Regions from separate parts of the Homo sapiens genome. Here all the other regions are reported to be linked to region 2. The links are microRNA targets in miRTarBase. Many come from high-throughput screens and were not tested one by one. Region 2 holds a microRNA gene; each other region holds the end of a gene's coding sequence.

The links. Region 2 holds the annotated microRNA hsa-miR-1224-3p (CCCCACCUCCUCUCUCCUCAG, at 2,868-2,888, shown strand). A microRNA usually pairs through its seed, bases 2 to 8, with sites in the 3' UTR of a target mRNA and lowers its output. Matches are read on the target gene's strand: a 7mer-m8 pairs with bases 2 to 8, a 7mer-A1 pairs with bases 2 to 7 and ends in A, and an 8mer does both.
Region 1: miRTarBase lists WDFY2 as a target of hsa-miR-1224-3p. Seed matches in the 3' UTR shown: 8mer at 4,579-4,586.
Region 3: the mRNA of GPAT4 is a reported target of hsa-miR-1224-3p. Seed matches in the 3' UTR shown: 7mer-m8 at 3,020-3,026 and 7mer-A1 at 1,997-2,003.
Region 4: the mRNA of SLCO3A1 is a reported target of hsa-miR-1224-3p. Seed matches in the 3' UTR shown: 7mer-m8 at 1,565-1,571, 7mer-m8 at 1,792-1,798 and 7mer-m8 at 2,663-2,669.
Region 5: the mRNA of PBOV1 is a reported target of hsa-miR-1224-3p. Seed matches in the 3' UTR shown: 7mer-m8 at 2,311-2,317.
Region 6: miRTarBase lists GM2A as a target of hsa-miR-1224-3p. The part of its 3' UTR that is shown has no 7-base or 8-base seed match.

What each region holds. Positions count from the first base shown.
Region 1 is chr13:51,758,988-51,763,835 of GRCh38, forward strand. WDFY2 (WD repeat and FYVE domain containing 2) reads left to right here. Exons shown (of 12, transcript NM_052950.4): 12 at 753-4,848. The coding sequence ends at 782. It also overlaps a transcript of DHRS12 not described here. Among named protein-coding and RNA genes, the nearest start is that of DHRS12, 43 kb to the right of the region's middle.
Region 2 is chr3:184,238,602-184,243,449 of GRCh38, forward strand. It overlaps MIR1224 (microRNA 1224), which reads left to right and starts at 2,804; the gene lies at 2,804-2,888. VWA5B2 (von Willebrand factor A domain containing 5B2) reads left to right here. Exons shown (of 20, transcript NM_001390846.1): 14 at 1-272; 15 at 793-982; 16 at 1,088-1,435; 17 at 2,190-2,327; 18 at 2,423-2,506; 19 at 2,586-2,803; 20 at 2,889-3,728. The coding sequence ends at 3,437. It overlaps ALG3 (ALG3 alpha-1,3- mannosyltransferase), which reads right to left. Exons shown (of 9, transcript NM_005787.6): 8 at 4,212-4,356; 9 at 3,700-4,075. The coding sequence ends at 3,913. RefSeq lists a silencer at 3,320-3,614.
Region 3 is chr8:41,619,774-41,624,621 of GRCh38, reverse strand. It overlaps GPAT4 (glycerol-3-phosphate acyltransferase 4), which reads right to left. Exons shown (of 13, transcript NM_178819.4): 13 at 1-3,729. The coding sequence ends at 3,621. Among named protein-coding and RNA genes, the nearest start is that of NKX6-3, 29 kb to the left of the region's middle. RefSeq lists an enhancer at 1,522-1,621.
Region 4 is chr15:92,162,070-92,166,917 of GRCh38, forward strand. It overlaps SLCO3A1 (solute carrier organic anion transporter family member 3A1), which reads left to right. Exons shown (of 10, transcript NM_013272.4): 10 at 687-3,834. The coding sequence ends at 1,066. Among named protein-coding and RNA genes, the nearest start is that of ST8SIA2, 230 kb to the right of the region's middle. RefSeq lists an enhancer at 2,570-3,327.
Region 5 is chr6:138,213,914-138,218,761 of GRCh38, forward strand. It overlaps PBOV1 (prostate and breast cancer overexpressed 1), which reads right to left and starts at 4,578. Exons shown (of 1, transcript NM_021635.3): 1 at 2,073-4,578. The coding sequence starts at 4,482. The coding sequence ends at 4,075. All of the region lies in intron 4 of ARFGEF3 (ARFGEF family member 3), which reads left to right.
Region 6 is chr5:151,267,142-151,271,840 of GRCh38, forward strand. It overlaps GM2A (ganglioside GM2 activator), which reads left to right. Exons shown (of 4, transcript NM_000405.5): 4 at 155-3,299. The coding sequence ends at 310. Among named protein-coding and RNA genes, the nearest start is that of GM2A, 16 kb to the left of the region's middle.

The DNA.
Region 1 (4,848 bases), not on the chromosome of region 2:
CCTGGCCACCATAGTGTGACCCTGTCTTAACAAAAAAATCAAAAATTAGCCAGACGTGGTGGTTCCTGCCTGTAGTCCAGCTACTTGGGAGGCTGACGTGCAAGAATTACTTGAGCCCAGTAAGTCGAGGCTGCAGTGAGCCATGATTGTGCCACTGTACTCCAGCCTGGGTGACAGAGCAAGACCCTGTCTCAAAATAATTAATTAATTAAAATAGGATAAACTCTGGCAGCCTCAGGTCCTTTATTTTTGAAAACGAGGTATCTTGTAAAATGGTTTGGAAGTTTAAATGGAAAGGACACAGCACGTGCTTGGCGTCCAGTTAATGGATTGAGTTATTTAATGGATTCAATCTATTTGGAGGGTGGAACAAATCTATATTGTCGCTTTCATGTTGGCTCATCGAATGCTGCCTCAGATGTAAACACAGTGCTCTGCAGCATTTCCCTTTTAGTGACTCACAGGAGGATCTGCAGTGTAGCTTGTCTTCCCAGTCCTCTCAGCCATTAATAGATTGAATCTGCCATGATTCTTCATGAGCTGCATCAAAATTTCAAGCTGTCATTGTCTTGTTTTTGAGCTTTATTTGAACTTTTTTGATGAAAAAAATATTTTACAGATTTGGAAATCATGTTAGTATAGTATGTGGTGGTTTGTTAAATGAAAAAAATTTCCTTGAAGAATTCAGTTCTAAGGACTGTTATCCTCAACACAATTTTAGTTCATTCTGTATCTTCTTTTTCTTTTTGCAGTTGTGGGATATGACCCCAGTCGTGTCTTGATGACTCTCCCAGGAATCAGAAAGATAGTATTTACTAAAGAAACGGTTGTTTTAACCCAAATCATTACCAGAGTGGTAAAGCAGACATGTGAGAAGTAAGAAAGAAACTAAAGACCCTGAATGAATTTGCAGATTACCCATGTGCACAGTGGGGACCTGGCCAGTGAGCACTCGCAAGGGGACTCTTCCAACTTGTTCATACAATATAAAAGAAGCTATTTTTTTAACAAATGGTTTATACAGTCTGGCTGTGCTGCATTGTTTTGAGTGTACCGAAAAATCTGTGTGGGGTGTTTAATTTTTATACTTTTCAACACCCCATTTTACTTGTTGCTTTGTCAGAGAAATAAGGGAGGTATCTACTCAGAGTATTTTGGTCATTATACTTTCTGTGTTTACTTCAACATGTGTCACGTGGCCAGCGGCTTTTTCTTCTCTTCCCTCTGCACCTACCTGCACCTTCTCTGCCTTTCCTGGAGGGGATGTATTTATGTTATTTATTCCCAGTGTTTCTGCTTTCATGTCCTCCTCAGTGGAGAGATTTGGAAACTCATCATGTGGATTCACCAGCCAGCTGCTGGAATTGCCTGAAGAGCGATTTGTTTGTAATGTCTGCCTCATTCACGTTCTTATGAAGTAGAAAAGACTGTGTTTCTGCCTCAGTTGCCTCTGTCTTTCCCACATTAAAAAAAAAAATGCTGTGAGAAAGCTGCTCCCAACCATGGTTATCACAGAAGTAGATTATTTTAACTCAGAGCTTCAACGATCAGTGCCTGGATCATTTAGAATTCAGTTGGAGCCTCCTGAGCCTCTTGTTTTAGCTTTTTTGACGCAGCTCTCCCTCACTCGTAACAATGAAAACAAATGACACACACACAAAATCCTACATCAGCGGCCCTCAACCTTGTTGGCAGCAGGGACCGGTTTCAAAATGAAACTGTTCCACCTCGGATCAGCAGGCATTAGCTTCTCATAAGGAGCACGCAACCTAAATCCCTCGCATGCGCAGTTCACAATAGAGTTTCTGCTCCTGTGAGAATCTGACGCCACCGCTGATCTGATGGGAGGCGGAGCCCAGGCAGTAACACTTGCTTGCCCACTGCTCACGTCTGATGGGTGCCCCCATTCCTCACAGGCTATGGACCAGTACCCATCTGCAGCCCAGGGTTGGGGACCCCCACCATACATGCTCTGAAAATAAGTGTCTTTAAGTTGTGTTTTTCTGTGTGACATCATCTCTGAACTTGAACATGTTCATTACGGCAAGATTGTAATCCTGCTGTATTCCTCGCCCTCTGTATTCTATCCCTTTAAAAACTAGATATTTAAACATTTTATCCTAATGTGTTTCATCAGAACACTTTGCACACTTTCTTACTAAAACGGTATGTGGGTGGTCCGAGACAGAATGGTACCTACAGTGCAGGCTATGTTTCTGTGGGAATGGAAAAGAGGACTTTAGAAAGTGAACCTGAAGAACTCTTATTTCTAAGGGAATCCAGTCAAGCTTGAGAAAATGAAATATTCTTGTGTGTAGTGATTCAGCTCAGGATATTGAAGTCCCTTTTAAAAATCTTATTTTCACCTGTAAAAATAGAATAAAAATTAATGGCAAGCCTGCGCCAGGTGCCTGCCCCTCCTAAGCACTTTACACGCACAGCTCATTCAACCTCACGTGTCGGGAGCATCAGGGAGCTCACCAGTCTCTTGAGGATCACAGGCCAATTGCTTGTCCTTCCCGACCCAAGCCCCACCCCACAGTGTCTTGCTCTCTTCTGATTTTACAGGTTTTTTGGCAGTAATACACATGGGAGTGAAATTGAAATCCTCCCTATTATTTTCCCTCTTTTCCTGGAAAGCCGTTTTTTGCCCTCACAATCATTCATTACTTCTCTAACTAGGGGGAAGTACTACAAGCTGTCCTCAGGTACTGCCCCTACGTGTGTTTCCCTGGGATGGGGCCTTGCTAGAGGTGATTCTGCTGCCCCAGCATTGGGAAGCAGGACCAGTGCATGTGCCCCATGCAGCCACGGTACATGGAAGCTGTCACTTGAGCCATCAGACCGGCTCAGCCCATGTGACCGGAGCTCTGAAGAGGCACACACGCATGCCCCGCACAGGCTGTTAGCACTTGTCGCCTCGCTGCCCTGGTCCAGACTACCCTTGCTTGCGTCAGTCAAAACTGTTGTAACTACTTTGAGTCTTTTCTGCATGATTGCTCTTTGAGAGAACTTTAACAAGGGAATTAAATTTAAAATATTCAAATATCTATTTTGTAGTTTATTACTAGAAGCTGCAGCCACTTACTAAGTTGTATGTAATATAGGACTGTGTGTTGGAAATGAGTAATAGAGCTGAATCACTCCATTTTCCCTTCCTAAACTTTGAGCTTGGCCTGCCGGCAGAGAGAGGAACACAGTATTAGGGCAGCAAAGGCCCAGGCGCCCAGCAAGCCTGTATGGGTTCTGAGATGGGTCTAGATGCGTTCAGACCTCATTCGGGAAGCAGAGTGTCCCCGTCAGATCACATATGTCCTCTACAGTCGCTCTGGCCTGTGACCTTGCACGCCACTCTACCTTCTCCCTCCCAGCCCACAGAGCCACTCAGAGGCTGAAGCCACTTCACAGCCCACTGGTGTTGAGAATCATCATCAGAAAACCAGATATGTCAAGGTATCCATTGCTCTTTCCTTTTCTCTCATCTGTGTGGGTGCTTGAATTTGGTGAAATGCGTTTAGCAAACCAACTGTGTGTTTGTAATACTGTGAATTCTTGCGTTTTGCATTAAGTGTCTCCCCCATTTTTGTAATTTGTAGAGAAATATGTGCTGGTGTTGGGTGTCTTCCAAGCATTTTATGGAAATGGAGGCTCCATTCCTTAGGAGTAAAAGCTGGCGCCAGCACTTGGCTCTTGTTCTGTCTAGGTGAACTCTCATAATTCTTGTTTTACCCTGTTGGATTTGCACTTTACATATATTTTTGCTCTATTACTTAAACATATAGCAGCTTTTACAAATAATGCCTAACATGCCTGCGCTGAGAAAGTGGCAGATCTACACATATCATACGCAGAGTTGTTCTCTACCTGATGGGGCAAAACCAACCACATGTTCTTGGTTCCTCCAAACGAATGACATTACTTGACATTACTGCCTGAGTGTATCTTCACAATAGCAAAATGGTTTGAGATTAAGCATTTGGAATCTTATGTCATTTTGTATGGGGTCAATCCACCATAACGTGTTTCTCATTTGGTTTTAATTATTTCCAGAAATCATAAAGTCACAAAACTGGAAGGGATCTTCAGAGATCTAGAGTGTTTCAAGCAGAAAACACATTAGTTATACAGGGCAGTTAGATATGGCTGAGATGTAAACAAGAGAATCTAAAAGAATGTTCAAGGAATAGCTGTTTTTGAACATTACTTAGTAATGGCATGAGTGGGAGGAGAGACTTTCAGCACCTTGAGACAGGGCGCTCTCTGGAACCAGCTTTGTTCCTCTTATCGAAAGCATATATGACAGTTTTTTTGGCTCCGGCCCTGTGGTGGGGGAGGTAATTATTGCCTTCATCCACATAAATTCCTTCCTATACATTCCCCTCAGACCACCCCAGAGGCAAAACTGAAATGGAAATCCAGTGGCACTTAAAATTCACCCTGCCCCGTTTGGCTGCGATTCCCAGGCTTACAGCACTGCCCTTATGGAATATCACATTTTCATTTTCTGAGATTCATTTTATAAAAGTAAAGGCCAGGTGCCATGGCTCACACCTATAATCTGAACACTTTGGGAGGACAAGGTGGGAGGATTGCTGAGCCCAGGAGTTCAAGACCAGCCTGGGCCACACAGCAAGATCCTGTCACTACCAAAAATTCAAAACTTAGTTGGGTGTGGTGGCACACACCTGTATTCCCAGCTACTCAGGAAGCTGAGGCGGGAGGATCACTCGAGCCCAGGAATTCAAGGATGCAGTGAGCTATGATTGCACTACTGCAGTCCAGCCTGGGCAGCAGAGCAAGGCCCTGAATAAATAAACAAAAGTATAATTTATTTTTGCCTGATATTAA
Region 2 (4,848 bases):
CCAACCCCTCTGACACAGCCATATGGCGCCGCATCTTTCAGTCCTCGTACATTCGGGAGCAGTATGTGCTCACCCACTGCTCTGCCAGCCCCGAGCCAGGCCCAGGCTCCACAGGCAGCAGTGAGTCCCCAGGCTCACAGGGCCCTGGCTCCCCCGAAGGTAGTGCTCCCTTGGAGCCCCCTTCTCAGCAGGGCTGCCGCAGTCTGGCCTGGGGAGAACCTGCAGGCTCCCGCTCCTGTCCCCTGCCTGCACCCACACCAGCTCCATTCAAGGTGAGATCCAACCCACATTCATTCGCCTTGTATCCAGCAAATATTTATTTACCACCTGCTGTGCACCAGATATTATGTAGAGTTTACTATTAAGTCTAGCTAGAGAGAAAGGTGGGTAAATCCCCAACGATACCATGTAACAACCAGTGATGAGCACAAGGACATGTATTAAGGGGGCTTAAAGTCAGGGTGACTAATTCTGCCTGAGAGAGTCAGGAAAGTCAGAGCCATATCTGGAAGAATAAGCACGAGTTAGCCATGCAGAGAGGGAGAAGACATAAACGAAAATACAGAGACAAGCAACAACCACAAGTGGGAAATAGGGAGTGGAGTGGGATGATGCTGGGAAGGGGCCAAGGCCAGAGGTCACTGTAGGCCATAAGGAACTTGGCCTTCCTCCTCAAGCTGGTGAGCGGCCACCCAGGGTTTCAGAAAAGGGGCATGGGCCAGCTGTGCACCCATGTATGATGGTCAAGGGTTCTGCATTCCTTGACCAGTGGCCCCCATATCTCACATGCAGGTGGGGGCCTTGAGTACTGAGGTGCTGGGCCGTCAGCACAGAGCGGCTCTGGCTGGCCGAAGCCTCTCATCCCCTCCAGGCCGGGCAAACCAAGTCCCCGGCCGACCCCGGAAACCCTCTTTGGGTGCAATACTAGATGGCCCAAGTCCTGAGCCAGGCCAACAGTTGGGACAAGGCCTGGATGACTCAGGTAAGTGTTGGATGGGGAGCTGGTTTCCCTGACACCAAAGAGGCCTTGGGGAGGTAAAGCCCAGAGGACCACTCTGCCCATGCCCCTGCTGTCTTGCCTCCCCAGGAAACCTGCTCTCCCCAGCCCCTATGGACTGGGACATGCTGATGGAACCACCCTTCTTATTCACGGCTGTGCCTCCTAGTGGGGAGTTGGCCCCTCCAGCAGTGCCTCCCCAGGCTCCACGCTGCCATGTGGTGATCCGGGGCCTGTGTGGGGAGCAGCCCATGTGCTGGGAGGTGGGTGTTGGGCTGGAGACACTGTGGGGACCTGGAGATGGCTCACAGCCTCCCTCACCTCCTGTAAGAGAAGCTGCTTGGGACCAAGCACTCCATCGGCTGACAGCAGCCTCTGTGGTCCGGGACAATGAGCAGCTGGCCCTCCGAGGAGGGGCAGAGACCACAGCTGACCGGGGTGAGTTGCTCATGGGTCCAGTCAGGACCCAAAGGCATGGGCTAAAAACAGCAAAGGTAGAGGTCTGTGTGTTTGATCACTCTCTATACCTCGCTTTGATCACAAAGGATTTGAGGCTCATCACAGACAAGATAAAAAATTAAGCGGGACAATGGGAAAAAGTAAAAATAAAAGGAAACTGAGAATGAGGTTATATTAAAGGTGCATGCTGTGAGGTTATATACTCTTGCAAGGATCAGATCCAGAACTGACAAGCTTCCTAGCAGCCAGCACAGAGGGCAACGTGATCCTGTCATGATTCACAGCACCCACAACGTAAAAACAAATCTTTGTCATTTAGGAAAATACTTAAAGTTCATTTCCTCAGTTGCACTAACCACAGCTGAAGTACTCAATAGTCAAATGTGACTAGTGGCTACCACATTGGATCATGAAGAGAGAGAACATTTCCAAGTTTTATTAGTGCAGAAGCAGGTGGAGGAAAATGTGCCAGCTAATGCTTCCTCTGGGTGTTGTCCAGAGTGCTGAATTTCTGGGCAGCCAGGGGGCTCTTGCTCTGCTATGGGTTGAAGATTCAGCCTGATCACTTCTTGTCAAAGTTGGGGAGTCTGAGCTGGTTCTGGGCCTAGCAAGGCAATCTACTCTGTTAAAGTCGATAGAGGGAGAAGCTGGGGAGAACACTGCAATTTTTTCTATGAGCCCTCTGTAGAGGGTGGGTGGTGGGGGCTCCACAGACTGCTCCTTGGTTCCACAGGCCATGCCCGGAGGTGCTGGCTTCGAGCCCTTCAGACAAGTAAGGTCAGCTCTGCCCCCTCCTGCTTCACTTGCCCTGTAGCTGTGGATGCTACTACTAGGGAGGTCCTGCCTGGGGCCCTGCAGGTGTGCAGCTCAGGTAGGGGCCTCTTCTGGTGACCTCTCAGGTGCAGCTCTCACCTCACTGGCCACTCTCCTGGACAAACCTGACTCCTGTCCCATGTGCCCCTGCAGAGCCCGCTGAGCCCCCAGGAACCCCTCCTGCCTCTCACAGCCATCTAGATGCAGCTCCTCTGCCCACTGTTGTCTACTCTAAAGGTAACACCCAAAGGTAGGGAAAGGGTAGGGGCACTTGGGCTTAGAGACCGCCCCCTGGCACTGATGATCCCCACTGCAGGACTTCAGAGAGGCTCTCCAGCAGGCGCCTGGGACTCGGACCAAAATGGCAACTCCAAGCGTGCTTTGGGGGACCCTGCCACTCCCACGGAAGGTCCTCGCCGCCCACCTCCCCGTCCTCCCTGTCGGCTCAGCATGGGCCGCCGTCACAAACTCTGTAGCCCTGACCCGGGCCAGGCCAACAACAGTGAAGGCAGCGACCATGACTACCTGCCCTTGGTGAGGACTCGGGAGGTGGAGGGTGGTGCCGCCGGGGCCGGGCGCTGTTTCAGCTCGCTTCTCCCCCCACCTCCTCTCTCCTCAGGTGCGGCTGCAGGAGGCACCAGGCTCCTTCCGCCTGGACGCGCCCTTCTGCGCCGCTGTGCGCATCTCGCAGGAGCGCCTCTGCCGTGCCTCGCCCTTTGCCGTGCACCGCGCCAGCCTCAGCCCCACCTCGGCCTCATTGCCCTGGGCACTTCTGGGCCCTGGTGTTGGCCAGGGTGACAGTGCCACGGCCTCCTGCAGCCCGTCCCCCAGCTCGGGCTCTGAGGGGCCAGGCCAGGTGGACAGTGGGCGGGGCTCAGACACCGAGGCCTCCGAGGGGGCGGAAGGGCTGGGCGGCACCGACCTGCGGGGCCGGACCTGGGCCACTGCCGTAGCACTCGCCTGGCTGGAGCACCGATGCGCCGCTGCCTTCGACGAGTGGGAACTGACAGCGGCCAAGGCTGATTGCTGGCTGCGGGCCCAGCACTTGCCTGACGGCCTTGACCTGGCCGCCCTCAAGGCCGCAGCCCGAGGGCTCTTCCTGCTACTGCGCCACTGGGACCAAAACCTGCAGCTACACCTGCTGTGCTACAGCCCAGCGAACGTGTGAAGGCTGCCCCCTGCTGCTTGGGCTGGCGCCCCACCCAACACACTCAAGTCACTGCCGCCCAGGGCTGGCCTCTTGGTGCTGGGAAAGTGTAGGCTGGTGCCAGCCTGTCCCCCACTGCTTCTTACTCCCTCCCTAGAGCCCTCTTGCCCCCACAAAAAGTGCCTGCCTGTGCTCTCTCCCTCTCCTCCCACCCCACTCACACTCCCCTCCATCCTCTGAGCTCCCTGCAACACAGTGGAAGGGTAGAGAGCCACAGTCCCCAAATCCTATGCAATAAAGTGCCTCTTAGGACTGCTTGAGTGAATTCTTTATCTGCTCCATACGTGTCCCTCACAGCCTGGACCAGGCATCGGCTGCCCCCACCTCCATGTAGGTTGCACAGAGTTGGACTTAGCAAGGTTTATTTGGAAGGGCAGAGTCCAACCAACCCCAGGTCCTGAGGGTAGACTCAGGTCCTGAGGGAAAGGGGTGGACTTCAGTGGGCTTTCTTGCTGTGTTGGGTGCTCTTGGGGAAAGGCTGCGGGCCCAGCCAGAGCTGCAGCAGGATGACGGCATGGCATATGTGCAGGGCAGCAGAGCTGCAGGATGTGGAAGGGTATGTGTTCCAGGAGAGCTCGATGAGCCCCAGCACCAACAACCTGGAGATGAGAAACAGGTTCCACGTTTCATCCAGTTGCAAGGCCTGCAGACCTGCAGCTCCTCATGCCCTAGACATAAACCCCCAACAGGAACTCCCTATCCCTTCCCACTCCCCCAGGTTGTCCCAGCTGGTACCTGAGCAGGTGTGTGAGCCAGCGTGCAGGCATGGCCCACAGGAGGTAGGGCAGTGTGTGGAAATACCAGACGTAGAACTGGTAGTGGAGGGAGCGGCTGAAGCAGATGCCAATGAAGTTGGAGGTGAAGAGGGTAGAAACGATCTGTATGCGGTGGTCAAGGCCAAGGGCAGGAGTGTGTGTGGGGGGGACTATCCCAAAACAGAGGGGCAATAGTTTTTAGGTCACATAGCCCTCTGGCTCTGCCATTCCTTGATGCATGCCTTTGGGCAAGTTTATTAACCTCTCTGGACCTGCTCCTCAACCAAATATGGAATATGGAGAGAGTAATACCTAGGGCCATAAGGTCTTGTGGGTTTGAACCCCTAACTTACTGGCTGTGTGACCTTGGTAAGTTACTTAACCTCATGAAGTCTTAATTTTTCCATCTGTAAAATGAGAATAGTAAATGTAAGTGTACCTCCCTGTCTCGGGGTCTCTTGTGAGCTTTCAATATTAGAACATATGTAAATCTCTTATGATAGTACCAGGGAGAAGTACTCATAAGAGTAGCTCGTATTTAGAATTAAGAATCAAATATCCTTCAATATGTGAAGTGCTCAGCACAGTGGTGCAGAATAGGACTTCTATGATTGGGG
Region 3 (4,848 bases), not on the chromosome of region 2:
TCCGCGAGGCAGTGCACCTGCAGCTGCCCTTCCAGCCTACGGACCGGGCCACCTGGGACAAGTGCACCTGGAGAAGCCGAGTCTGGCCACCCGGGATGCACAGCAGGCAGGTGGGACCTATGACATGGGGGGATCCTTCATGCATCAGGGGACACTAGCAAGCAATAGCCCAGAAAATCAAGTTCCTGGCCAATTCCAGGAAGGAAATGGCAGGATTCAGAGACCCAGATTTCCACAGGACAACAGGGTTAGTGCCCACTGTTTGCTGTGCCGTGAAGGTCACACGATGGCACCCAAAAATGCCTGTCACTGGTCTGGGAAGGGCATTTCAGGGATCTGGAGCACTCCCCCTGACCCCTCACACATCAAGCCTCTTCTCTGAAAGGCAGCACCAGGGACGGATTCTGACACGGTGAAGCATCAAGTCCCAAGGCTGGTTCTGCTGTCAAGGGAATCCCACTAGCTTTATTAAAAAGTTCCCTCTTGGCTGGGCGCAGTGGCTCACGCCTGTAATCCCAGAACTTTGGGAGGCCAAGGAGAGTGGATCACCTGAGGTCAGGAGTTGGAGACCAGCCTGACCAACATGGTGAAACCCAGTCTCTACTAAATACAAAAAATTAGCTGGGTGTGGTGGTGCATGCCTGTAATCTCAGCTACTTGGAGGCTGAGGCAGAAGAATCACTTGAACCCGGGAGGTAGAGGTTGCAGTGGAGCTGAGATTGTGCCATTGCACTCCAGCATGGGCAACAAGAGTGAAACTCCGTGTTTAAAAAAAAAAAAAAAGTTCCCTAACTGGTGGGTGGAAAGTCTCATGTTTGAGTAAAAAAGGCTGTCTGAGAACCACAATGAAGATACTGCCCAGCCTGAGAGCAGTATGGCCCCAGCCCCATGGCTGCCTAAAGCCCTTGAGGTCACCCTCAAGTGGGTTAGTTCCACTAGCCCTGATGTTTTAGAGAAGCAATGGATTCAAAGCTGACTTCCCGTATTTCCAAACCCAGAAGACTTCAGAGATCAAAGCCAAAGTTTGAACTATGGGCTTAAAAACAGAGAATTCAGAGGTGGACGAGGTCTCTGAGGTCATCTAGCCAAGTCCCTAGTTATGACTCAGGAGACGGATGCAGAGAAGTGAAGGTGCAGCAGGCTTGGAGGGGGGTTAGCAGCTGACCAGCACTTTCCACTCATTACACCACTGGGTGTCATTCCCAGCTCAGCCCCACCCTTGCTGGGGTAACAGGAGGGAACACATTATTTTGTACTTTGCATGTTTCTAAGTGTCTTGAGTTTTTGCCCCATAAGACCAACTCGGTTACCCCAAACCAGATACTCTGACTATGGGTCACTTGGGGCTTGCAGGACCCCTAATTTAAAAGGATGGAGCAGTCGCCTGGATGATGGTAAAAGGCATACACGGAAAGGGGAGGTTACGTTTCTGCAGGCGTGAATCAGTGCTCTCCTCACTGCCCGGCCCGCACAGGACTTCCCTCCACAGCACTGACTCCACGTGACTTCACACCAGGTGCGGCCACACCTGCCGGCAGGGGCCGCAGACAGCTGTGCTGAATGTGAGACAAAAGCAAAACCTGTGTGTGTGTGTATATATAAATACCTATGCAAATCACGAAAGTAACAAACCATAAAGTTTCAGATGAACTTTTTAAAAGAGAACCTGATCTTTTAAGACCAATTACTGATCCCTCCAGTTGGTTTACAAACACTGTAAACATCACCTATAAAAGCTGAAAATCACTTTTTATTCTTAAGCATTTTGTAAAACAGTTCCTAAGAGACTTATTAGTCATAACACTGACTTTATTTTTTCAGTCTTCATTTGAGAGCAAAAAGATTTCCCCCGGGCTGGCAACAGGGCAGGTGAGGAAATGGGAGGCTCTCCCAGGGAGGTCACAGGTAGGTGCAGAGAAAAGGAGATTGCAGGGCCAACCCAGCAGGTACCACATGCAAAGTGGATCTGTCTGCAGCCCCAGGAGCACAGCTTCACTCCCACCCACTCCCTGAACTGCAGGCCAGAGGGCGACCTTGGGGACGTGACACTCAGCACCACAGGCACAAAATCCTGAGAGGCATCATGACTGTGCCACGAGGGAGCATGGGTCCCAAGTGAGGGCTGGTGGGGCATGAATGGGGAGCTGAGGAGCATGAAACTGGTGAAACCCCAGAACCCACAGGGGCTGCTTGGCCTTGGCTCTGCCTCCACTGTGACTGTACAGCAGGCACCAGTGGCCGACTCTTTTCCTGTGGTGCCTGCTCTGGCTGTGCAGAAGCTGCCATGCAGCACATGCCCTGCCCACCCTGCCCCTCTGCAGCCCTCCCCTGTCCCTCCCCTGCAGAAGCCACCATGCAGCACAGGCCCTGCCCCGCCCCGGCCCCTCTGCAGCCCTCCCCGGGCCCTTGCTCCTCCCCCACCCTGGAGTTTACTCATTGCTTCCCCTAGGCCTCACATCAGCGACCCGCACACACCCCGTCTCTGGAGAAATCCACGTCTGTGCTGGAAATTCTAAATTAACCAAAGATCTGCAAGCATCTGAGACGAGCTGTTCACCTTCTGAGCTGCAGGGTTCCTCGCTCCAGCAGTCAGTTGGCTTCTCCGCAGCCCCAGGGCCATGCTCCCAGAAGAGAACGGGAATCCTCACGAGAAGCCTGCTACTCAGGGCCACAGCCAGGGGAGAAAGTAAAGGGAGAAGTCCCCCAGTTCATTCACCAGCCAGTTTTATTTACTCACAAGAACAAATCCAAAGCCCAGTGCAGCAGCTCTGAGCTCAGGCCTGCCGTGCCCCGTTTTGTGGGCCTGTACTTGAAACACTGAACGTGATGTGTCCTTCACTCACCCGCAGCACTTTAATCCCCACAACAGCCCTGTGAGGTAGGAATCACCACCATTCCCCCCGACTCATATTACAGATGGGGAAACCGAGACACACATTCAACAAAGCGCGCATCACATGGGGAGTTCAGGGTTAGCCTGGAGTACGAACACACGTTCTCCCCATGGCCCAGTCAGCGGCCCACCTGGCCTCTTCCCCTCCCTTTAGTAACCCCATCAGCAGCAGCATAAAAATCTAACCCTTCATTTTGCTGAAAGCCCCTGCAGATGACAGTTTCCTTCCTATCATGTCTGCAGAGCTCCAAGGCTGGGGGCGATGTTGAGGCCGAAGCCAGCCACAGTGCCTCAGCTGTGCCTTTCCTGGAGAGCGGGTGGCCGCCCCCAGCACATCCCTGGCACACGGGCTTGCATAACAGACTCTTGTACCGCCATCTCTAGCACAAGACCATGGCCACATCTCCCCAACCACTCAGCCCGCACAGCGTGCAAAGGTGGGGAGTTCACTTTAATGGCATTCCTCCAACGACTTATTGTAAAAGAAACAAGGCATCTCGTCCTGGGTCGCAACACCCAGCAGCATCCGTTTAGACCACCAAGGGTAGGCTGCGCCGGGTGCACAGGGATCCCGCTGCGGCTCGGCGAAAGCCGGAGTCCTGGGATCCAGAGCAGCCCGGGGAGCCCTGGAGTCTGGAAAGGACACAGCAGTGGGGGCGGCGGCGGCAACTCCAGCTCTGAGCCCGTTGGCACCCCGCACGGTGGCCCCAGCCAGCTGGAGGCAGGCTCAGGAGCGGCTCCTGTCCTTGTGGTTCCCCACGATCATCTTGCTGTACAGCTTCTGCTGCTCCTCCTTGAACGTGTCCTTCACCTTCTCCCTCTTCAGGCCCCCATCCCTGGAGAGACAAAGGCTGGATGTAGTAACAGCCAAGAGGGCTCCCAGCCACGCTCACACCATGGGAGATGCACCATGCTGCCCAAACACCAAGAAAAACCTGCCAGAAACAGGGTACCCCGTGGCACTCTCACCAAGACAACCTCAGGGGATTTGGGGCTCCGGGATCCCAATATCCACCCTTTCTATCTCAAAAGGTCTACCCTTGCCCTTGGGTGAGAATTTACTACTCACATTCAAGGTACTTGATAACTGCTTAAACCTACCAAGGAGTTTACAATTCTTTCTACTCTAACATTCATCTTCACCTCACAAAGGAAAAGGAGGAATTCTGGCATTATGGAAGGTAGACATGCTTTAAGAAATATCGACTCATAACGTATCTGTAAAATCTATCTGTAAAATGTCATTTGTTTAATTCAGACCCAGGGATACTCTGAACTCATGCAGAGAGCTAACACAAGGGGTAACGCGTGTTCTGACTTCTTCCATGCTCAAAAAAAGAGTGCCGTCAGGAATGGAGGTTTACCTCCGGGGCTGCCTCTCAGAGTTCCAGCCTCACTGCCCCCGTGCCTCCCTGCAGCAGCCCCAAACCAACCCACCAGACTTGGGATTGTTTCATTACAGTCCCATTGCCTCTTGCCTGCTGGCCCCCTCCGTGCCTACACTCTAGAATTATCACCACCTTCAACAACTTATAAAAATCCAAGCCCGCTTTCAGTCTCTCCGCTACACCCTTTAAAATCCATAGCAAAGGCATAGATTTTAAAAGCAGCCACTCTGTCTTTGTTAAACTTCAGAGATGGGAACATGGGGCAGAAGTTAAACCTTCAAGCTCTAAAAGTCTGTGAGATGTGGGTTCAAAATCTAGCTCCAGTGCTAATGTTATGACTTTGGAAAAAAGTGATTTGAGTCTCAGTTTCTCATCTGCAAAATGGGAACACTGTTTACAGCGCTGCGGCTACTGTGAGGGCGAAAGAGACGATCACACAGGGCCCCAGCAGCTCAGTGACTGGCACACAGTGAGTGCACAATCCACACTAGCATTTTTTAAAAGGCCATCATCTGAGAGCCAATCTATTCCCTGAGACTCTACAGTTGGGTTTACAATGTGAATTTC
Region 4 (4,848 bases), not on the chromosome of region 2:
TGATAATAGCAGCTGTCATTCACTTTACATGGTAAAGTGACACAGTACACACTGTTCTAGATGCTTTTTTTTTTTTTTTTTTTTTTTTTGAGATGGAGTCTTGCTTTGTTGCCCAGGCTGAAGTGCAGTGGCACGATCTTGGCTCACTGCTACCTCTGCCTCCTGGGTTCAAGCAATTCTTCTGCCTCAGTCTCCCAAGTAGCTGGGACTGCAGATGTGCACCAACATGTACCACAGTGCAAATTCCAGGTTGTCTCTTTAGTAGAGACGGGGTTTCACCATGTTGGCCAGGCTGGTCTCAAACTCCTGATCTCAGGTGATCCACCTGCTTCAGCCTCCCAAAGTGCTGGAATTACAGGTGTGAGCCACCATGCCAGACTGATGCTTTCTATGTGTAAAGTTAGTCTTCACAGCCATCTGGTGAAGACTGTAGTATTATCATCATCCCCATTTTGCAGATGAGGAAACTAAGGCAGGAGGGCTTAAATAACTTGCTCAGATTTGTACCATAATAAAAAGGCAGAACTGGGACACAAACTCATGCGCTTTGCCTCCTGAGCATGTCTTTGAGCCACGGAGTCAGACATATTTGCCTAGCAGTGCTATAAGAAAAGCTAGGCAGAGACAGGAACAGGGGAGCACTGGCCACCAGATCCAGAACCTTAACATTCTTTTCCCGGTAACAGGCTTCATCCCTCCACCCCTCATCTTCGGGGCTGGCATCGACTCCACCTGCCTGTTCTGGAGCACGTTCTGTGGGGAGCAAGGCGCCTGCGTCCTCTACGACAATGTGGTCTACCGATACCTGTATGTCAGCATCGCCATCGCGCTCAAATCCTTCGCCTTCATCCTGTACACCACCACGTGGCAGTGCCTGAGGAAAAACTATAAACGCTACATCAAAAACCACGAGGGCGGGCTGAGCACCAGTGAGTTCTTTGCCTCTACTCTGACCCTAGACAACCTGGGGAGGGACCCTGTGCCCGCAAACCAGACACATAGGACAAAGTTTATCTATAACCTGGAAGACCATGAGTGGTGTGAAAACATGGAGTCCGTTTTATAGTGACTAAAGGAGGGCTGAACTCTGTATTAGTAATCCAAGGGTCATTTTTTTCTTAAAAAAAGAAAAAAAGGTTCCAAAAAAAACCAAAACTCAGTACACACACACAGGCACAGATGCACACACACGCAGACAGACACACCGACTTTGTCCTTTTTCTCAGCATCAGAGCCAGACAGGATTCAGAATAAGGAGAGAATGACATCGTGCGGCAGGGTCCTGGAGGCCACTTGCGCGGCTGGGCCACAGAGTCTACTTTGAAGGCACCTCATGGTTTTCAGGATGCTGACAGCTGCAAGCAACAGGCACTGCCAAATTCAGGGAACAGTGGTGGCCAGCTTGGAGGATGGACATTTCTGGATACACATACACATACAAAACAGAAAACATTTTTTAAAAGAAGTTTCCTAAAATAAAAAAAATTAAAAAAAAAAAACCCACAAGTTGAAAACATTGCCAGATTAAGCACTAGTGACACACCCCGTGCCACCCTCTTCCTCCAGGTGGGGGTGGGGGCGGGCGCACAAGTCGGAGGGGTGGAAGCACCACTCCTCTCTCTGACTTTCGCAATATGGGTCACTGTGTAGACGACTCACCCAGTCTGCATGTGGTTCAAGGCCCCAGAGTTCTCTCAGTGATGCTAATGGGTGATCCGTGCTGGAGTTTGTAATTGGCACCTCTCACCAGCTCCATTTCCATGTTCAAGACTGAGGGCCTGAGGGGGAGCCAGGTGGGGGGCCAGCACCTCCCAGTGGCGGGCATCCACCTTCCCCCAGCCCCACAGAGTGACCTCAGGAAGCAGTAGGCCTCGCCTGGCTATGACTGACCCGGCTCAGAGCTGGTGAGACCCAACGCAGTCCAAGTCATTTGCTTACATTTGCCAAAAACATTTTGCCATTTTTAAAAGAAAAAAATACAATCCATATGAATTTCAAACTGTTGTATGTATAATCCTCTAATACTATTTTTAACTACTTCTAAAATCTGTGTTAACCCTTCAAGTCACTAACACAGTTCTCTAGGCCGGATTTATTATGCTGGTTGCTTTTACTTTTTTTCTCCTTTTTTAATGCACCAAAAATATGTGATACAAGGGATGCAATTAACCTATTGTAATTTTCATCATTTTATCCTCATTCGAATATTCTACAAAAACAAGAATATACAATGTGTTACAAGAAGAAAAAAAAATGCTTCAAAAAGAGAGTGTATATGCAGCCTGCCTTTAAAAGAATCACATTTGAGACAACAGGGGATAATGTGATGAATTGCAAATTTGCCTTTTAGCTTCCTTCCCCATGATTCAGTGATCACTGTCACGGGAAACCCTTTTATATTCATGCTTGACATTCCAAGAGGCGTTCTTTTCAGCCTGTGGAGGAGACACTCTTAGATGTGGGTTTGTGTGTATGGGTGCAACACTTCCGGGGATAGGAAAGAAGAACAGTTCCCTAACACAAGCTGTTAAGAAGTCTGTAGCATCTCTGATAACGAATAGACCCACAAGCTCCTGGAAGCTGTCGTGTGTCCAATGCGTGAAAATGTCTGTGACATTTTCAGTGTTAGTCTTGAACTAAGGCCCTTGTCTGTGTGTTTTGAAGGTGGGTGAACCTCAGAGAATGAACCTGTTATGATTTGGGGTAAGAATCACGTTGGAAAACCTCTCGCAACCAGCACACTAGGCCTTCTACGGCCATTTCTGTAAGGGGACAGAGCTTAGGTAAAGGCACACACTCATACACACACAACAAAGGGCCCTGCTAACTTACTCCTCATGCTGCTTCAGTGACCTTTGTTCATGTCACATTCCTGGCGCTGGAAAAAAAACTCAAAGGTTGATTGGTTTGCTTTTTCACCTTGGACACATTTGCATTTTACCCACAAGGCAAACAAAAGAATCAGGAAGTAAAAAATGGTTGGGAGTGGGACAGGTATGGTACCGAATTTTTAATGAACATTGTAAATGAAGAGGCTTGAATGACAGCCCAAATCTAGAGAAGGCACTCAGCAAGACCAACCAAAAGAAAAGCTGTGTCGTGGTATGGGGCCACCGTGATCAGCTACCTGGGGCAGGATGCTTCTGAGACAGGCCTTTCAACTGCTTAGTGTTAGTATGTCCTTGCTTATGAAAATGGGGACACTCATCAGTACGTTAACTACTAAAGGGGAGATGGTTCTCCAACCACTTCATAAAATATGTATGTTCTGTTGTTCCTAAGGCTTTGATAATATCCTGTACAGATTTTGGTTTAGTTTTGCAAATATATTGCTAATAGGTCACTCTTATAGATTATTGCTTGGCCCTTCAAACTCAGTACACACACACTGAGGCCCTTTGACCTAGTGTTTTATGGAACTATTTGCTTTGAGAGAAAAAAAAAAGAAAGTTTTTTAAACTCTTTGCATTTTGGATTTTTTTTCCTAAGATTTTAGGATGAATGTGAAAAAGATGTTAGAATAACAGGAAGACAACTCCAGGGCTGAGTTTTATCAGCAATTGGGTATAAATTTAAAGACCGCTGTTGCAGGATGGCTCTGAATTCTGTTGTGTCGTCTTTTAAAATTTTAATTATTCTCATATAGTACCGAACAGAAAACTCAGTCTAGTTTTAATTTGCCTTTTGTGCTCTAAAGAAGCATTGTACATACAACACTAGATCCAGCCCCTCGATTATCTGTTTGGTTTCAAGTGAATGAAAAGATTTCCTGGTAAGATCATTGGATTTACAGAATACAAAAATGTACGGGATGGAATAAACCTAGAAAGTGAATGCTAGAGTTCTCTCTCTTCTGCTACAAACTCCTACACCATCTCAGCTGAACATGCCCAGGGTGGATGAAAAGTCTCTCTCTGCTGAAATTGACAGATCTTTGTAACTCCTACGTAGAGACAAAGAAGGTTTGGGTTTTGTTTTGTTTTTTGTTTTGTTTTGTTTTGTTTTTCTACCAATATCATTCCCTCCTATGAAGTAAGCACATTTTGCAAAAATGCCTCTCTAGGGGACAGGGTTTGCTGTCTTCTCTCAGCTGAGGCTGTGTGCTCTCAGGGAACGCTGGCTCTGAGGCACCCTGGGGGACAGGGCTCCAGAAGGCCACAGCATGGCATGCGGGCTTTCCTCACAGCTAGCGAAGGAGTGGAAGCAGCCTCCTCTCACGGTCCCCCCGAGGAGCTTGCTAGGAACACTTAACAGGCAAAATAATAACTGGAAAGCCAGGAGCTCCTAAGGAATCATTTGACAGGGTTGCTAACGTCTTCCTAGCAGGAGGGAGCGTGCCCCTCCATAAAAATCACTTCCTTCTCACCATCTGATCATGGAATAACTCGCTCTAGTGCTGACTTTTAAAGATTGGTTGAGTGTCATCTGTACATTCCAGTCCCCCGATTCCACTGCCCTGTGTCCAGTAATTGCCCTCCAGCTTCCCCTCACTCACACTATGGCAGGGCTTCCCAGCCCTTACAGTCAAAAAGCCTGCAGAAACGTTCCACACAAGGGCAACCAGCTGGTCCCTGGGATGGTAGTCACACCACTCTTGAGGAATTTTCCCAGGAAAAAGATTCTCCTGTGGTTGCTAATGGATATTCTTTCACACCTTCCAGAGGAGGTCATTCACTGAGGAACATTTAAAATGGAGATAGATACATGTACTAAAATAGAAAAACCTCCAAGGAAAAGTAGTTTCTGGGTCCCCGTGTGCCTGCTGGGCTGGTTTTCTTGCCGCCTGCTGCTTCCGGTCCTAGGAAGTCTGGTTTCTTCTCCACCCAGCCATGCCTGCCAGACCTGTGC
Region 5 (4,848 bases), not on the chromosome of region 2:
CCTGACTTTGATAGGTCACAAGTGAGGGCTCCATAATCATTTGCTATTTCTGAGATTGAAAATACTTGTTTTGGTATAGAGATTGGTTCACAGTGTAGACTTTCTGGCTTAGAATAATAAGTTTTATCCCTCTTCTCTCTGAATGAGGAATTTCTATATCAACTTTTTAATAATCTCCAGAAGCCAACACCCTTTATCTTATAATTCGGTAATACTTGTAATGATCCAGGTAAAGCCTCTTAAATAAGTCCTTGTTTTGCTAATACCATTACTGTATTAAATGCTTTTACTGTATTCTCCCAAAAATTATAGAAGAGAGAATTAGATGAGTCCCCAGAGAAAAGACTGGATTTCCATTACATCTGAAGGGTATGTTAATTTAGTCTTGGCACTTCTACATGACTCATTCTGATGATAAATTATTTAAGAAATTTCCTATAAAAATCTTCCAGTCATTTTATATAAGTATTTTGTAGGCACAGAAAACCTTTTAAAACAAGATATGGTGGACATCTTCAAATGTTGGTCTGGATATGCTATTCAGGAGGGATAAGGCCACACCATGCAGTTTTTATTTGTCTGTCCGACCACAGCATAGCACGTTGTTATAACGGATCCTAGGTGTTATTTTTTAGAAGTTAGATCATGCGTTTTATTCACATATTGGTATCTGTTAGTGCTTATAAACATGGAAGATTGAACCATGTCACACTCTAAAGTGTATGGAACAATTGTATTAAATTTCTGGAAAGAAAATAATATAGTTTCCTTTTTGTAGAGATTTCTCCAAGATTAAACAGAAACGGGCCAATAATGAAATCCAATATTCCAAGGATAGTATTCTCATTTAGAAAGAAGACTTTCAATCAGAGGGTTAAAAAAAATCAGTGAAGCCTGCTTCTGACAAATAGGAATGAGGTTAAATCACTTAGTCTAGGAACTATTCTACATGGTTTTACTATTTAACAGGAAGGGGAGAAAAGGCAAGTTTGATTTATTGAAATGGCTATGGAACCCAAAGAAAAGTTTTACAGCTTGAGCAAACAATAAATGGTCAGAACTGTACAGAATCAGAAAGAGGCTCTGAAGATAGATTACCTTGGAAATGGATTAGTAGACTATTGAATATTTAGGTTAAATACTTGTCTGCTTTGGCAACATTTTCCTATGGTGTGTGCTATTTCCATAAATGCCAGGCAGATTGTATAGGAGCCATGTACGGATCTAATGACTTCTCTGACGAGAGTAGTTAGGACTTGTTTCCCTTCTTTCTGATGGATAACCTTTAGTGAGGTTATTAACTGATACAGCTGGCTGAGTCTTCAAAGGCTGCCGAATGGAATTATGGCTGGCTGTTCGCCTCTGTAAGCATGTGGGAGATGTGGGCATCCTATCTGGGGAGGGCAGGCTGGCTTTGGCGATAAGGAAGGAGATGATGCTGGACACTGAGAGAGCATTTGATGAATATTCTATTACTGGGTGTCTTTTTTATGTGCATTTTTAGATAATAGAAGTGAATATTCGTAGAGTGCTTTGCAATTTTTAAAGGAGAAATGACAGGGGCTTATCATTTAACATTTTTTATGCACCAGACATATTGATACTAAGGTCACACAGCTAGTGAAATGACCAGGGCAGTATTCAGCCTGGAGTTAAACCTGTGCTCTTAAGTGGTGGGTTACCTTGCCTGCCAAGTCTATCCTGAGAGGCTTGTGGGTGCTAGTCACTGCTATTCTTCTTGTGTAGATGATGGAGCAGAAAAGCCAAGTCACAGGCTAAGGAGGGGTAAAACTAGGAGTGGCTCAGAGTCCTGTGTGGTTTCTGTGTCTTCCCGTGATAATGATATTCCCTCACTAGTCCTGTGAGCTAAATTCACATATGAAGAAGGAATCTAAGTGTCTTTTCCACTAAGTTAGCTAATCGGTCTGGTGTGTGTGTGTGTGTGTGTGTGTGTGTGTGTGTGTGTGTGTGTGTGAAAGAGAGAGAGAGAGAGAGAGAGTGTTGGGGAAAGGGAAAGAGTGTAATTTACCATTGGTTTTTTGGTTTTTTGGTTTTTTGTTGTTGTTGTTTTTTTTTTTGGGTGGGGGGGAGTTTTACTCCTGTTGCCCAGGCTGGAGTGCAATAGTGCAATCTCAGCTCACCGCAACCTCCACCTTCCGGGTTCAAGCAATTCTCCGCCTCAGCCTCCTGAGTAGCTGGGATTACAGGCATGTGCCACCACGCCCGGCTAATTTTTTGTGTTTTTAGTAGAGATGGGGGTTCCACCATGCTGGTCAGGCTGGTCTCGAACTCCCGACCTCAGGTGATCCACCCACCTCCCAAAGTGCTGGGATTACAGGCGTGAGCCACCGTGCCTGGCCGGGGTATTTTTATATAACAAACGCCTAGTAAACATCTATAGAAAATACACAGATGAGTGAATCGTGGACAGAGTTTACTATTTGTATGGCTGGTAGTCCTAAGCTTCAGGGTGTCCAATTAGAGTTCTGGTATTACAAAGTGGAAGGGAGTGTGCTTTTAAATTATGTATCAGTACTGTCGTCAGTGCCTTGGTCTGGGAGCAAGAAACACGACAAAGGAAGAAAGACTGTTTGAGTCCCCTCTCGGTAATGTTTTAATGGCAGAGTCTTACACTTGGGAAGTTTCTTCAGATGGTTAGTTTTGATGTTCTTAACTCGGGGCATTTGGTCTTCTAGAGTTCCTTTTGGAAAGAATGTGATCATTAGTGAAGTTTGAGAGTGAAATGGCTAATTTGTCTTGCTGCTTATAACAGGGAGAAATCTCTTCTTAGCCTGAAGCCATTGAGACCCTTCAGAAGATTTGTAGCAATCTCTAGCGTTAAGGAAAAATCCAATGTTTGATGAAAAATATTTAACTCCTGAATGTGTCGTTGTTGGAGGTTGATCTAACAAGTTTGCAAACATATTGTTTGTGCAGTTAATGCAGGGAAGTGTCTAAAATATGTGGTTCTGCTAAGTAAATGGTTCTCAAACAGCCTTCCCTCTTCCTGCTCATAAGGTTGAGTGATGAGAATCTTTTTCTACTTTGCAAACAGACTAATATAATTCTTACTGAGTTTTCCTCCCATCTTTCTTTACCCTTTGATATGACTGCCTTCAGCAGATGGTAAAAATATATGAAAAAGTAATGAACAAACATTGAAAGCCTGGAGATGTGATTTTCCTTTAAATAGTTTATGCATTATTTTTGAGATGGAGATTTTCATATTATCTATTAATATCTTTTTAAAGCACCACCATTTCCAAGTGTTTACTATATTTCAAAATCACTCTACTAAGTGTCTTTAAACTTTTCTCACATAATCTTAATTTAAGCGCATATAAATGCAGAGGCCCTCATCACTTACTCTGGATGTTCTATAGATCCAAACAGAATGGGAAAGTTCTCTGATTTTTTAATCATTTATTCAGCAAATATTTGATTGTTTTCTATGTGTCAGGCACTGTGCTGGGCACAGAAGATCCCATAGTGAAGAAAACAAAACCAAAGAAAAACACAATCTGTGTTTGGAGGCCAATGATAGAGTCAGAAATCAATTAAATATATAAATACACTAGTCCCCACTTATCCAAAGTTTCACTTTCCTTGGTTTCCATTACACATTGTAATGTCTCCTCAACTCTTGACTCAGGCATGACTTGAACATTTCACTAGTTACTAAGCGAAAATTAGTGGTATACTATAAGTATTGTTTTTATCCCTCTGGTGCCTAGCGGAGCATCTGGCACATGGCTTACTAATTGCTCGTTAGTTTAGTTATTGACTAATGGAGAGACAGAAACACATGTGGTAGTTTTTAATGGCCCACTAGGATAAATAACAAACTAAATTGAGATAATAGATAATAATCTATGAGTTCAAGATTGAGAAAGATCAACATGGGTTTGTATTTTAGAATTGAAATAACCTCCTACATCATCAAATTCTTTTCATAAGTAAATTGAAGTTGGAATGGTTCAGTTACTTGGCTGGGCTTAAACAGTCATTGGTAGCAGAATTGCCTTTTCAACCATTTTTATTTTTCTGGAAAGGCTTTGCAGCAGGGCTGAGAGTTTATATGATCTGTGGATGTATAGTTTTGGATAAGTAGAGAAGACAGCATTCCAGACCTAGGGTCTGAGTTAACTGCAAAGTCAATGTGAATAATATGGCTTCTGAAGATAATGAGGAACATTTCATTGAGGAACCTTTCATGGTCAAGTGTGTCTGCAAGGGTGTGAGAATTGCATGGTGTGACTGTTCTATGGAATAATCAATGAACTCTGTTGCCTTTTGACTTCTTTTTACTTTTTCTTTTTTTCGAAATACCTTGTAGCAGAATGGTAAGAGCACAGTTTCTGGAGCTAGAATGCCTGGTAGCCTTGGGAAGTTACTTAATCTGTGCCTCAATTTTCTGATCTGTAAAATGTGAATAATATTGTGCATATCCTCATATTTCTGGTTCCTTAAGAAGGCCCTCATATTTACTACTGTAAATTGAATTGTAGCTCTGTAGCATAGAAGAATAATTTTGTAAATTATTATACATCAATTAGCCACCTCGATATATTTAAGGTCCTAACCATCAGCCATGATTCCACAATCTAAGGAAAACACCCACTCTTTAGCTGAGCCAATGTTTCTGTTCCATCCTACGAGGTAGAGTTTTATGATTTGATTATTCCAGAAGAGCTCTGTAATTATTGTTTCAGATGTAGAGAATCAGGTTGGCTGTAGCCCTTTAACAACCCTATCTTGAGGAGCTTGCTTGGTCAGGTCTATAAGTATAAACAATAAAACTATCAAAAGTTCTGTGTTTGTATGGGCAGAGACAATTTGAGATGAGGC
Region 6 (4,699 bases), not on the chromosome of region 2:
CTCTACAGTGCTATGGCCGTCTCTCATCTTGTGCGGCTGTTTTGAGAATGGGAAGAGGGGTGGTAGTTCATGGCTGCAATCCTAGCAGTGGCTCTAGGAGAAAGACCCCATCAGTAGGCTCCCACTGACTGGCGGTCCACTGGCTTTCCCGCAGGGAACCTACTCACTGCCCAAGAGCGAATTCGTTGTGCCTGACCTGGAGCTGCCCAGTTGGCTCACCACCGGGAACTACCGCATAGAGAGCGTCCTGAGCAGCAGTGGGAAGCGTCTGGGCTGCATCAAGATCGCTGCCTCTCTAAAGGGCATATAACATGGCATCTGCCACAGCAGAATGGAGCGGTGTGAGGAAGGTCCCTTTTCCTCTGTTTTGTGTTTGCCAAGGCCAAACTCCCACTCTCTGCCCCCCTTTAATCCCCTTTCTACAGTGAGTCCACTACCCTCACTGAAAATCATTTTGTACCACTTACATTTTAGGCTGGGGCAAGCAGCCCTGACCTAAGGGAGAATGAGTTGGACAGTTCTTGATAGCCCAGGGCATCTGCTGGGCTGACCACGTTACTCATCCCCGTTAACATTCTCTCTAAAGAGCCTCGTTCATTTCCAAAGCAGTTAAGGAATGGGAACCAGAGTGTTTTAGGACCTGAAGAATCTTTATGACTCTCTCTCTTTCACTCTTTTTTTTTTTTGTCACTAAGTTAAAAGCGAAGTGAGAGTATTAACGTTTTTGTTCTCCTCCGGCCCCCTGTTACAATGAAGGGGCAAAAGTATTTGCTCTTAGTCTATTCCTCCCTTAACTTCTGTGACTAATTTTTATTTCCTTTCTAGATTTGCCCAATTAATACTAGGGTGCAGTGTATCCTGGAGAGGTAGGGTGTGTGGGGGAGGAATCCCTTGGGGGAGATATTAGGAGTGCTCTGTTGTTTACAAACTCAGGTACCCGCAGGGCCTAGCAAGAGACTTAAATGACTGATAAGAACCGTGAGAAACATGTTGCTTCCAGGCTTGATTTCGATTTTTCGCTTTTTTTTTTTTTGAGACAGAATCTCACTTTGTCACCAGGCTGGAGTGCAGTGGTGCAATCTCACCTCACTGCAACCTCCGCCTCCTGGGTTCAAGCAATTCTCCTGCCTCAGCCTCCCAAGTAGCTTGGACTACAGGCCCTGCCACCACGCCCGGCTAATTTGTGTATTTTTAGTAGAGATGGGGTTTCACCATGTTGGCCAGGATGGTCTCGATCTCTTGACCTCGTGATCTGTCCACCTTGGCCTTGCAAAGCGCTGGATTACAGGCATGAGCCACTACACCCAGCCGATTTTTCCTTTTTGATTAAAGATGCTATTACAATGTAAATATTTCTTACACAGAAAGTCACAGCACATGTGCCCATTGATACAAGGCTGCTGAGGCCTGGTCTCCAGTTGGAAATATAATTAAGGGTGGCAAGGACTGGAGTCAGTTGGAGAGTGCATAGCCAGTCTGTGAAGACAACTGCCAGATACTGGCAATACTCCAGCCTGGTGACAGAGTGAGACTCTGTCTCAAAAAAAAAGTTTCAATGTTTACTCCTAGAGAAGCCAAAAATCCAGATTTGTATATGAAATCTTACCATTTTAAAAGATTGGCAGCTAATTATTTTTTTAAAAAGCTGTGCAGTGTGATGTGTCCCAAACGGACTGGCTCATGGGTGGCCACGTCACAACCTCTGATCTCAGACCGTGCATGCCTTGTCCTCTTAAGACAACTCCTGTGGCACCGTTTCTCCCTCCACAGGGCCAAAGCCATAGTGTCCGGTCCCAAGGACAAGGCTCTTCCAGTGCTAGGAGAGGTATGAGCAGCCTCTCACCTGTGAGCTGTGGGGATCACAAGGCTGCCTGCCTCAGTCTTGGAGTCCTGTTGGGTGAATGAGGCAGATGGGAAAGAGCCTCACCAGCAGCTGCTTTTGGAGCAGGGGTCCAAGGAAGAGAGGGTGGCCTCGACATCAAACTGCCTGGATTTTTCTACCACCCTGTTACATCATAACAACTTCTGAAACACACACCAGCCCTGAGTTCTGGGCTCATTTGAAGCCTGGAATAGCAATAAATCTTTTTAACTTGCGGACAGTTTCCCCTTGCCTTGGCTGCATATTTCACTGATCACATCTCAGGATTTCAAAAGCATTTTTGGGGTGGGGCTCTTTTGGTTGGAAGGGTTTGTTGGAACGGTACAGGTGAGCCGAGGTGATTCCAGGGACGGACCCTTCTGCAGGAGCTTGAGCTTGCTTGTTGTCTCTGCTTCATCGCCATCCAGCTCCCTTGTTTGCTATTTTGCTTTCCATCACATCATGACTGCGGAGAGCAAAAATCACCTAGTGACCATTGAACAGGTCCCAGAGACAAAATCTTTTTATCTGAGGAATTTAAAAGGGAGCAAAGACCACCTGGTGACTATCAGGCCATGCAGAGGCAAAACGCCTTATTTGGGGAAAATTAAAAGTAATTAGACTTTCCTATTATCTAAAGCAGGCATCTGGTTCCAGATTTCTTTTCCCCGAAAAAAACCTTAGAAGTAACTAAAATTTCTGTACATCTCCGGAATGCCATGCTGAAACTCACTGCAACCCCACGGTCCCGCTTTAAGGTCCATAAATATCCCTAAGGAAAAATCCACCGTGGTACATTCAGTCCTCTCACCGAGGTGCCCCATGGCAGTCTTCTGCAGCATTCTTCTAATACCTTTCCTTTTTCAAACCTATACTGTTGTTGGTGAATTCTTTTTACCAACCCACGAGTTGACCACTTCCCAATGCCGGGGATCTGACACCTCACCTGGCAATGACCTCCACAGCCGTTTCCCTCTGTTGGATCTTCCAGCCTTATTCTCAACAGTTCATTTTTAGTTCACATTCTTGACCGAATCTCAGTAGCTCAGTTAATCTTTTTATGTCTGCTCTGCTCTTGGGTCATATGTTCCGTGAGGTTTCTTAGGGGTGGGGGATGAGGAGTTAAAGGTGGCATCTTCAATCGCAGGTCAAAGCAGACTTTAATAAATGGTGCTGAGCCAACTGGAAAGCCCCTTGGAGAAAGTTGAAGTTAGACCTGTACTTCACACCATATGCAAGAATGAACTCCATCTGGATCCAGGATCCAAATGTAAGAAAATGAAGCCATATAAATACAGAAGGAAACGTGGTGGAAATATCCAGTGGCAACAAAATATTGACACATTTGACTACATGAAGATAATAAAAATGCTTAGTAAAAACACAATAAAATCAAATGACTGGGAGAAAAATTTATCCAGCCTATATAATAGACAAACAGTTAGTGTTCTTACTATATAAGGAATTAAAAATTAAGGGACAAAGGACCAAAAACTTGATAGAAAAACTGGGAAAAGACATGAACATACTCACGTAAAGATATAAAAATGGCTCTTTAAAATGAAATATTCAAACTAACTCATTAGAGAAATGTAAATTGAGATAATACTGAGATACCATTTATCATCTCTAAGACTGGTGAAAGAAAGAACAACACATTTCTGTTAGGCAAGGCTATAGGGAAACACACTGTCATCACTGTTGGTAGGAATGCAAACTGGTATGACTTCTGGAGGGGAATTTGTCAGTACTTAACAAATTGCAGAAGCATTTACCCTTTGACACAACCATTTCCACTGTGGGAATTTCCCTTGAAGATGCACCTCCAACAGTACAAACATACAGATGCACAAGATTACTCATTGCAGCACTGAGACTGCAAATATTGGAAGCAAAGTCATGTTCATATACACGAGAAAGCCTGAGTAAACCATGGCACCAATGGCATACCCACATGATGGAATATTATTGAGCTATAAAAAAAATGAGGAAGATCTCTATGAATCGGTATAGTTATTTTCAAGATATATTAAATGCAAAAAGCAAAGTACAAAAAGTAGAAAGTGGTACTTTGTATGTAAGAAAGAAGGAGATGTAAGAAAGCACATGTATCTATTTGTTTATGCAAAGTAAATAAGGAAAGATTGGCCAGAAAGTAATGAGCTGTCTATGGATGGTAGGTGGGTTTAGAGTAGAAAGAAGGGAGAAATCATAACGGTGTAAAGGAGGAAGGGATGGAACACTGCCGAGTGTATCTGAGTATATTTTGTATAACTGTGAGTCTTGGAGCCATAGTAATGTTTCTCATGCCCCCCAAAATAATTAAAGTCAACCAGGATATGAGGAGAGTTCAAAATGAAATACAAACAGTAACAAATGAACTTAACTGTATTTCAGATGCATAATACAACCACATTGAAGGAGGTGGGCAAGAAAAATAAGAAGTTATAGCATTTTGATGGGATACTAGAAAGAGAAAAGGAACTGTACACAAATACCAGAGTCTAGTTAGCAAATTTTTCACAGAAGCAGAAGTTAGTAATTCAGGAAGTATTTTATGTGTGTATTAGGATGGGGAAAACAAATATATGGTAGGTAATGAGAACATGGGGGACATATTGAAAGGACACAGGAACCAAATTGAATGTCCCTCAGTGGCCAAATCTTGGGCAATTTGAGCAATAAAATAATGACAATAATGGGTTATAGTCCACTGACTAAAAATACACTATAGAATCCCATACACAATGGAATCACAAATGTAGAAGGAACGATAGAAATAGAAAAAATGGCTGGGTGCAGTGGCTCACGCCTGTAGTCCCAGCACTTTGGGAGGCC